2 linked regions of the Homo sapiens genome follow. The protein of the gene in region 1 purifies or fractionates together with the protein of each later gene. This does not show direct contact. Each region holds a gene or a part of one and is shown on either strand. Other genes may lie near its edges.

Region 1 (5,718 bases):
AATTAGCTCTCTGCCCTGGAGATGCAGTGCAAACCACAAAACACGTTTTCAAAACACCAAATCATGAAGGTAGTCAACAAAATGCTTTTCCAGGTGACCCAGGGGGAAATACAGCTGCCAGGACTCAGGTCTCCGATGGTAACCATGTGGCATTCTTACGAGGGAGGTCTGGGGTTCTAAAACGTCAAGTGCGCCCAACTCTGCTGCTTCGCCTACCACCAAAACGAGGGGAGCTGATGTCAGTAGCAAGAAAAGGGACAGGGTTAATCTGCCTGCAGGAACCATGAGCCTGCAGCAAAAGTCCACTGGGGCTTCAGCATGACTGGAATGTTCTTGGATGGACCATCTGGGTCCACATGACCAAGGCCAACCCAGCTAAGCACTGCCGATGGATTTGCTGAGGTGATTTCATCCTAGCTGAGTCTGGTCAAGCCCGCTGTCAAGAACATCAGCAAATCAACTCACTATGTTGGTGTGCATATGTTTTACCTTTTAACAAAGTGATGCTTTAATTAATGTTTTTACTCTGACCCCAGCTGTTTCTGTGTTAAAATATCTGTGGGTCTGGCACAATAGCACACTTGGCAAGAGGCAGGCAGCTTTCAGCGACTAAGGGCAATCAATGCTCAGCTGTTTGCTCTTGAAATGGCACAGTAAACAGGATGTCAAATAATGACACACCCGCTCTGGATTTCTGTCTGCCTTCCATCTCCACTCAAAAGAAACATGCTCCTGGCCAGGTGCGGTGGCTTACGCCTGTAATCCCAACACTTCAGAAGGCCAAAGCGGGTGGATCACCTGAAGTCAGGAGTTCAAGACTAGCCTGGCCAATACGGTGAAACCCCGCCTCTGATAAAAATACAAAACTTAGCCAGGCATGGTGGCAGGCACCTATAATCGCAGCTACTTGGGAGGCCAAGGCAGGAGAATCACTTGAACCCAGGAGGCAGAAGTTGCAGCGAGCTGAGATTATGCCACTGCACTCCACCTGGACAACAGAACGAGACCCGATCTCAAAAAAAAAAAAAAAAAAAAAATGCTCCACACTCTGTATAGTAACTTAGATCATAAAAAGCAGAAAACAGACTCCCATGGTCCAAACAAACGGAGCTGAAATAAAAAGAGCAGTTGTAGAGGCAGCAGCAGGGATGAAGTAAATAACTAGGGCTGGGATAGGAAAAGTCATGGTTTCTGCTCCTAAGCCTGCAAGAGACTCTGGCTTGCAAAATCTGGCAGCTAATAAGGTACTCAAGGGCCGCGTGACTGTTCTACACTAGAATTACTTGGTGCAAATGTTCAGACAGACATAGGGGAGCGTGCTGGAGGAAATCGCTGCAGTGAGGAATAAATATCATGATTTTTGACTTTCCCCTCCAGTCAGCCAGAAGGCGGCAGTTGGGGACCGACAGTAAAGCTCACAGCAACTCCACCCCGGCAGCCTCAGAGTTGCAGATGTCAGTGCAACATGGTTTTCTACTCAAACTAAAATTATAAGGAAGAAAAAAACAGCCACGCAACTTTGTTTTACACTAATGAGAGATTTTTCTTGGCAACAATAAAAAGGTCTCTCTTTCACTCACACACACACACACACACACACACACAGTCGACAGAAGATAAGAAACAAACCAATATCTTCAGGGGGCAGAATGTCCAGGATGCAGCGTCTTAGGTCTGAACTTCCTGCTAAGTGTGTAGTGTACAAGCTCCGCAGTGAAAGGAAATAGGCATCAGCGTGCACCAAAACATCACCACAGACAGATTGAGCAGATACATCCTGCCCTCTACTCTCAGTGCTAATACACAGGAAGTGGAAACTCATTTGGCTTTGAAAGTTAAATTAAAAGAGTAACAGGACTACTATACCAAGAGAGATAGATGGTACATCATGCTTCCATCTTTCAAGGAGAGGAAAAGAAACTTTCCTACTCGGCAAGCCAAGAACTGACTTCTAACAGAAAATTGCTAGACAACAGTTTTGCAGATGGCAGAACTATTCCAACAGATTTTGTTCCAATAGGGAACAGTACTAATTAATACAGGTGTGGTCGTGGTAGTGGTGGTAGTAGTAGCAGTGACTGACAGAGCAAGAACTCTATTTACTTTATGAAACCCTGAAACAAAAATATGGGGTGAAATGAGGGCATAAGCCATTGTTACTTCCTTCGTTTGTTCTGGCAACAGTGAGATCAGCCTGTGTAAAAATCAACCCAGGTTCACCATTTTTTAGGCCTTAGAAGGTTTTCACTCTGCTAAACAGGAAAATCAAATGTGATCTCATAGAATAGGAAAATCCCTACAACATACAAGTGAGAGAGAATAAGCTACATCCACAAGTCAAGGGCTAATGGGGTTTTCTTTCTGATCCAAAATTAATCCAGAGACTAAAGAGCAAGACCAAAATTATTACCATTCTTTCAGCTCATCATCCCATTTCCTGTTTGAGAATGAGCCATTCTAAGAGATAAGGACTGGCTCCATTGCTCACATTAGCATAAAGAAAAATGACCCGTCCTGAAAGCAAGAGTGGACCCCGGCTTCACTCACCTGCAGACACTGGACTTTCTGGACATGGTGGTGCTGGGGGAAGAGGGTGGCGTCTGATACGACCAGCTGTAATCAGAACCTTTCAAGTCCAGAATCACCTAAGGGGACAGAGCCAGCTGGGTGAATGAGGTGCTGAGAGGGGAAGCGTTAGCCATCAAAGCTTAACATCCACCAAAGCATCAAAACGCTGCCATCGTGGGGGTGGGAATGAAAGCAAAACATGTTAAAAAAATTTTTTTTAAATTGAAGAGCCACAGTACCAAATCCATCAATATCATAATCCTTTTACTGAGAAAGTAAAACTATAATTAATAGGGAGAAGGAAAGGAAGGGAAAAGGAAAATCATGAAATATCAGTCGAGAGAGGGAGAAATACAGTGACCAATTAATAATTTATAACAGCCATTTATACCCAAGGCTAGAATTTACAGGATTTTCCTCTTGTAATGCCATAAAGTTAATCATGGTTCCCAGACTTGTTGGTAGCGCATTTTAACCACTTGATATTCAGTGGTCATTTCTGCCCTATTTGACCAGCACTAGAAATTTTAAAGCCTGACAGAATCAAGAACAAGCCAATTCTTTCACCATTATTTCTATATCTGTCTCCGTTGCTTGACAAAGGACCACATGAGTATAAGGTCCACCTTTCATTCACATAAGAAGCACTCAGTAAATGTTTATTTGTCAAGTGAATGCATGCATGCTCTGGTCTAATAAATATAATTTGATAGAATAGAAAACATGAGCTCCCAAATTTGCCCTCTGAGCCAGCTCTCCAAGGAGACGAAAAGATTGTTACCAAGCACAAAAGCCAGCATGTGATTCATCAGTTCCCCCAAATATGTCTCTTCCCATAGTGTGCGTGTGATGTGAATTAAATGAATAAAGCATAAAAATGTCATCTTTTTCATAAGATGAGAGAGCTCTCCATGCATTGCTCAATTAGAATGGGAGAAATGGAGAATGGTTGACAGTGTCAATCAAAACACACCAGCGACGTGTTCTTAGGAGGGTTGACTTCTAGAGGGCAGATGAACACAGCAATTAAGTGCATGGGATCTGGAACCTGACCAACTTGGTTCAAATATCAGTTCCACTACCTGCTAGCTAGCTGAACCTGGCTAAGTGACTCCATCTCTCAGTGCCTCTGCATCATTCTCTATAAAACAAGCATAATCATGAAGATGAATGGAGGAAGTCAGGCTATGTAAAGAGCTTGGGACAGTGCCTGACACACAATAGGTTCTATGTAACAGCTCGCTGTGGTGATTTCATATATTACATCATGAAGGACGTGGTGAATATGACTACAATTTAAGACGTGACACATGCCACAGGAACACTCAGGGCCTTGAGCTTTTACCTCTTTGGTTTGATCCTGTAAGTGCTTAACCCCTGAAGCCTACCTGTTCACTTGAGGAGGGCAGTTTGTGAGGGTCCATGGTCAGGCTTTTTAGATCTTCCGAGATGGTCTGAAGGTGGGTTATTTCCCCTAGCATTGAGATTTCTTCTTCCTGAAGGAAAAGTCATTCATGAAATGTTATTATCATGAGTGATTCCCTTCATCGCTCTAGTCCAATTGTTTTCATTAGGGTCTCTGTATAACCCTTTCAGTTTTTCAGAAAAGGCACTGTTGGGACTGGCAAATCTTTGCTGAAGGCACTACATGCCTTTTCTTTTGGGAAATGAGATGGAAAAAGAAATCTGCCATAATGGAGGAGTGACCTGTGCACAGGGGACAGTGGGGAACACACAGGCCTCCCTCCCAGGGCCTGGGGGACTGCCAGGCCTGCTCAGATGGTCTGACTGTGTGTTCCCACGGGATCCTGCAGCACAGCCCTCTTCATACTGTGGCCCTTTTCTGAAGTTGCTTAGCTTCAATGGATGACACGACTTGGATATATTTTGGTCCAGATCTTTGTGACAGTGCCTGTGTGTTCAACAGAAGCTAACTTTTCCCCTTCTTTCTTGTGCTTTTCCAGCAACTTAGTAAAAGACAAGTAAGACAGGAGCTGGGGACCATGGAAGAAACATCCCATGTGCTTTATCGAAGTGCCAAGTTGGGACCACGGGCCGGGCTAGAACGATCCATGGAAAAGTTCTGTGCTCAGGGGAACAACTCAAATTCAGACATTTTGCTAGGGCTAAGGGAAATGAGCTGGTACCTTCGAATCAGCTTCCAGAACGCCTGCAGTGCAAGTTCTCAATTACGGCATGCAAATGATTTCCTTAAAAATTAAGTCTAAATTGATTCATTGAGGCTCTTGGATATTCATCTCATGGTCACCCCTTAGTACTCGGCTACAACAGTGAGTCTCAAAACCACCTGGAGTGCTCCTTTAAAACACAGACGACTGGGTCCCCACCCCCAGAGGTTTGGACTTGGTGGGTCTGGGTTGGGCCCAAGAACTTGCATTTCTAGCCAGTTCCCACGTGATGCTGCTGACCTGGGGACCTCACTTTGAGAACCACCCTGCTGGGCCTTCTTGACTTGGTGAGACAAAGTAACGGGGAACAAGTGGTACTAGAACAGTGAATGAGGAGTGAGCTACATGGCCATCAACTTGCACTGAATCGCTGGTCTGTACAGGAGATACCACCATCATGATTCCTGACAGTAGATTCTCCATGACTCAACAGTGGATGGATAAAATTAGAAGGAAGCCACCTCTACACCAGCAGTTTAAACCTTCTGGAGTTTTCCATTAACTTACAATCACTGGCCGCAGCATAGAGATGAAGGTACAGAATCGGCCACGTTCTTCAATCAAAGCCTTCCGGACAGCCTGCTTTTCTGTTTCTTCCAATAAGAGATACTTATCATTGACATCTTGGAGAGCACTGTCCAACTGAGGCTGGATATCACCTCTCCCTGCAAAAAACAGAGACCCAAGCACGGCTTGCTGAAATACCAGCTTCTGGAACAAGTGCCCCTCCTCCCTGGGGTCCTTGCTGGAGTCAAAACCACAATTTTCCAGGATGTAAAAAAAGTATTTATTCATGCCCCAAAAGGATTTAAGGCAGCTGTTTTTCTAGGACCAGCCATTTCCAATTTTCAATGCCCAAAGGGCACATTTAGCCTGGCTTATTCCTGACAAGGAAAATGTCCTGGGGCAACTCTTCATGACTTGCCTTCTCACACTGCACAACCCCCACCAACTCTTCTGC
Region 2 (4,608 bases), on another chromosome or scaffold:
CATTATCATAAATGTACAAGTTCTCCTAGCAGTCCAACACTTAAATAGATTAAATCATCTCTGACACATGGTAGCTTTCATATAATGAAAATACCTAAAATAATTAGTGCAATATACTGAACTGATCAAAATAAAATGAACTTTGGAAAGGAAGGCTGCAAGATTGTTACTAACATATTGCAATACTTTATGTTACAAATTACGGGTACATTGTTTATTATGGTTCTAGCCATGGAGGAACAACTGAAGCCCCTTCCTGTCAAAGGGGGAGAGAGAAATAATTAGCTGTTTTAGTAACAGTACATTTTGTATGCTTTTAAGCAACTCTTAAATATTACAGAAAAGTAATACAGATATGGAGACTACAATGCAGTACCCTATTTACAGTACAGCTGAAGATCGAATTTAAAATAATCAAGTTTGAATATACATAATTGTTAGTGCATTGACTATATTATGTCAAAAGGGAACAAAAGCCCCCTCCCCACCCCAAACAACAAAACCTGTGTAATGGCCAGCGGTGATTAATTAGAAATCACAGACACCTGGTTTATTTCATTTTTGTTAAAGAACTCACATGTTTGAAAGGAACACTGACCATTAAGGTGCATTTATTAGTTCTCAAAATTCCTAAAACAAGATGGGGTTGCATTTGATTTTTACCCCATTTAAAAAAAAAAAACCAGACTGGGTATAATTAAGATACCATTAATACTCTTCCCCACCCCTGACCTTGTATATGTGGGATTATTTTCTTGTGGTTAATTTATTAAAATGTGGAATGTACATTTTAAATACAGGTACCAGGAGAAATGAACATTTGCCTGAATACTATGGCTAAGCATCATAAATAACTTTAGAATCTCCTTCTAAACAAAGAATGTTTTTGAAAAGCCCAAATTAGTAAGTTCCAATTTTTTTTTCACAGGTGACTACTGTACCAGTGTGGAGAAATGGGCTGGTTAACTGTGTGGGCCCAGACAGTCATTTGTCTATATTCCTAGTGATGAGAAATTATTCCCCCTAACCTTCCAATGAAACAAGTGTCCACATAGTTCTCATTTTTCCCTATTGTTGAAACATTAGTGAGAGGGACCCATGCATGTTATTAAAAATTAAGTTCAAAACACTTAAAATAATTCTGTATTAGAAACTTGACTCTATCATAAGTCTCTTCTTTTGGAAGTCATACTGGGCTGGTTAAATGCTCCAATTCCATTGTTATTAACATTTAGGAAGCAGAAGACTATTCCAGCTAGTTCAAACTAGAGGTTTAGTTACTACAACACTGATTCCTGGTTGGTTGTGTGGGTTCGGTAAGGTCTACTCCTCTTCCTCTGGCAGAATTTGCTCCTGGATTTTGTGGTTCATTCTTTGGCAATTTTTTAGCTGAAAGAAAATGATCAAATAAATAGAATATTTGAATACTCATATTAATATCAGTTTCACCTGCTTATCTATAATTTTTCTTTCCAGTTAGGTTACCCCCAAAGTATCATATAACCATATGTTCATTCTTTTCAAATGTTTACTGAGTATTGAATGCCAAAATATTGGTTGCTGTCTTAGGGAGTTTGATTTCTGGGGTAATTGTGTTGGGGGAACGGTAGATGGGGACTGGTTGTAGATACAATTAAAACTTAAGCCTAACTAGTGCTTTATGTAATTCTCTATACCGATTCACTCAATAATACCAGAAAAGTTCTATTTTATTTTATACTCATTATTACTTCTTTTTTTTTTTTTTTTTTGAGATGTAGTCTCACTCTGTCACCCAGGCTCACCTAGGCTGGAGTGCAATGGCGTGATCTCAGTTCACTGCAACCTCCACCTCCTGGGTTCAAGTGATTCTCGTGCCTTGGCCTCTCGAGTAGCTGGAATTACAGGCATGCCCCACCACACCCAGCTAATTTTTGTTTTTTAGTAGAGACGGGGTTTCACCATGTTGCCCAGGCTGATCTTGAACTCCTGACCTCAGGTGATCCACCTGCTTCAGCCTCCCAAAGTGTTGGGATTATAGGCGTGAGCCATGGCACCTGGCCTCATTATTACTTCTATTAAATAAAATCTAAGTCAATAAAGATGATGGCCAGCCAGTAAGTTTATAAAGAAGCTCAGCTCATATCAGCGTTCTCTAGACTGCCACAAACATTTTTTAGAACAAGTCAGGATACAAATACCTTTGCAATCATCACCCCAACAAAACTTGTCCTCTACTGTGCAACTAATTATCACCCCGAATTGTGATAGATCATATCTACTATTTCCTTCCTGGCTTCCACAGCCTTTGGCCTTAAAACATCTATATACATGCTCTCTTTTTTTTTTTTTTTAAGAGACAAGGTCTCACTCTGTCACCCAGGATTAAGTGCAGTGGTATGATCATGGCTTACTGCAGTCCTGAGTTCCAAAGTGAGATGGGGTCTCACTTTGTTGCCTAGGCTGGTCTTGAACTCTTGGGCTCAAGCAACTCTTCCGCCTCAGACTCCCACGTGCTGGGACTGCAAGCATGAGCCACCATGCTCGACCGCTTAGTTTTTAAAAGAGAAACTTACACCTTGCAGAGTAACCATCAGCTGCCTTCAAATAAAGGGGAAATAGATAAGAGTTGCATTTTTGAGAATGAACAATTATAATCTATGCTTTGGGCAAAGGAAGGACAGATAACACCCAAGTTAGATGCCTGCATGTGTCAAAACTTAGCATACTGGAGGAAACATACTCACACACAAACATACCTTAGCATGCTAGTGGAAATACACTTAGACACAAACATATCCACATACATTTATACATACTCAACACTTCGTTGTGATCTTAGTTTGAATGTAGCCTGCAGCCATACTTCTTTTCATTTTGGAGACAAGGTCTCCCTCTGTAGCCCAAGTTAGAGTGTGGTGCATCAATCATAGCTCACTGCAGCCTTGAACTCCTGGGCTCAAAAGATCCTCCCACCTCAGCTTTCCAAGTAGCTGAGACTACAGGGTGTGCACCACCATGCCTGGCTTTTTTTTTTTGGTAGAGATAGGGTCTTGCTCTGTTGCCCAGGCTGGTCTAGAACTCCTGGCCTTGAAGATCATCCCACCGTGGCCTCTCAAAGTATTGGGATTATAGGAGTGAGCCACCTCAACCAACCTCATTTTCTCCTTTTATGGGCTGATGAATCCTAATCTGACTGACCAGTAGCTGTACCTAATCCAGATAGAATTATCCTGAAGACCTCATCTCCAAAAACTATTTCTTAATTTTATTTGAGTCCGATGAGTGTGGCTTGTCAAATTCAGACAACACTCTCAACCAGCAGTTACGGCTTTACCTCTGCCAAGCTCTATACAGCTAGTGGCTGTTCTCTGGAGTGTGCTTCCCACTGATTAAAAAAACTTACCTGCTGGATATACAGATGCTCCTTGACTTACAATGGGGCTACATCCTGATATATCCATCCTAAGTTGTATGTTTTTGATTTATGATTTTTTTTTTTTTGAGGCGGAGTCTCGCTCTGTCACCCAGGCTGGAGTGCAGTGGCACGATCTCAGCTCGCTACAACCTCTGCCTCCTGGGTTCAAGCAATTCCCCTGCCTCAGCCTCCCAAGTAGCTGGGACTACAGGCACATACCACCACACCCAGCTAATTTTTCTATTTTTAGTAGAGACGGGGTTTCGACATGTTGGCCCGGCTTGTTTCCTGACCAACTCCTGACCTCAGGTGATAGCCCGCCTTGGCCTCCCAAAGTGCTGGGATTACAGGTAGTGAGCCACTGCGCCCAGCCTGATTTATGATATTTTTAATTTATGATGGGTTTCTGTATGTAATCCCGTAGTAAGTTAAGAATGTACTAAATGCATATCACTTTCACCCCATCGAGTTATAAAATCGTAAGTCAAACCACTGTAAAGTTGGAGATTGCTGTAGTTTGTTTTAATACATAAGATCCTTGATGTGCTAAATTCATTTTTTGAGGGGAGGCAGAATATTAAAGATGACTAAGAGTACTGATTTTAAGAGTGGCTGCACACACTGATCTCTATCAATCTTGGGGACAGACCACTATGGTAAGACTCTAACTTTACCATAGCTTTGACTCAGGTTACTCAGAAATTGAATACACTCTGCTTTGAGATCGGATTGCCTAGTTGCATTGTGAACCTTTTATCCTTTATTTGTTCTACACATTCCATTCTACATCAGCATCAATCATTTTTAGAATCCTAGATGCTGGGTTGGGCAATGGATTTGGGAGCCAGGAGCACTGAAGTTTGGAAAGAAAGCCTTCAATTGGGCCACTTCTCTGGGACTGGCTCTGGGCTGGTAGCATAAATAGCATTATAATGGTAAATCTCCAGTCAAATGTATTTACAAGCAAAGCCCCAGAAATGTTGAACACTGGTACCTGGGACACAAAATAGCACTATATATTGTATATAATAACAACTTAGGTTCCAGATTGAGTAATCAATCATGTATCCCTTTAGCATGTTCCCTAAGTGTTTAAATCAGAGGTGAGTGAGATTAAGAGGATGAAGGAGGTAAACTAGAACGAGTAACTTTTTAGTCCTTGCATTGATTAGAGTTGTTATGAGTGCACTGTGTGATTTAAGTTACTAATC

Evidence for each region. Proteins that work in one complex are often made in the same cells at the same time.
Region 2: the proteins of MTSS1 (region 1) and RAB5A purify together in Homo sapiens (affinity purification with western blotting, with the first as the bait; 2 studies listed by BioGRID). This does not show direct contact.

Annotation. Positions count from the first base shown.
Region 1 is NC_000008.11:124,563,115-124,568,832, forward strand, and holds part of MTSS1 (protein MTSS 1), read right to left. Parts: intron 5,423-5,718; coding exon 5,265-5,422; intron 4,065-5,264; coding exon 3,957-4,064; intron 2,646-3,956; coding exon 2,548-2,645; intron 1-2,547. UniProt on the Homo sapiens protein: May be related to cancer progression or tumor metastasis in a variety of organ sites, most likely through an interaction with the actin cytoskeleton.
Region 2 is NC_000003.12:19,980,489-19,985,096, reverse strand, and holds part of RAB5A (ras-related protein Rab-5A), read right to left. Parts: intron 1,390-4,608; coding exon 1,274-1,389; 3' UTR 1-1,273. UniProt on the Homo sapiens protein: The small GTPases Rab are key regulators of intracellular membrane trafficking, from the formation of transport vesicles to their fusion with membranes.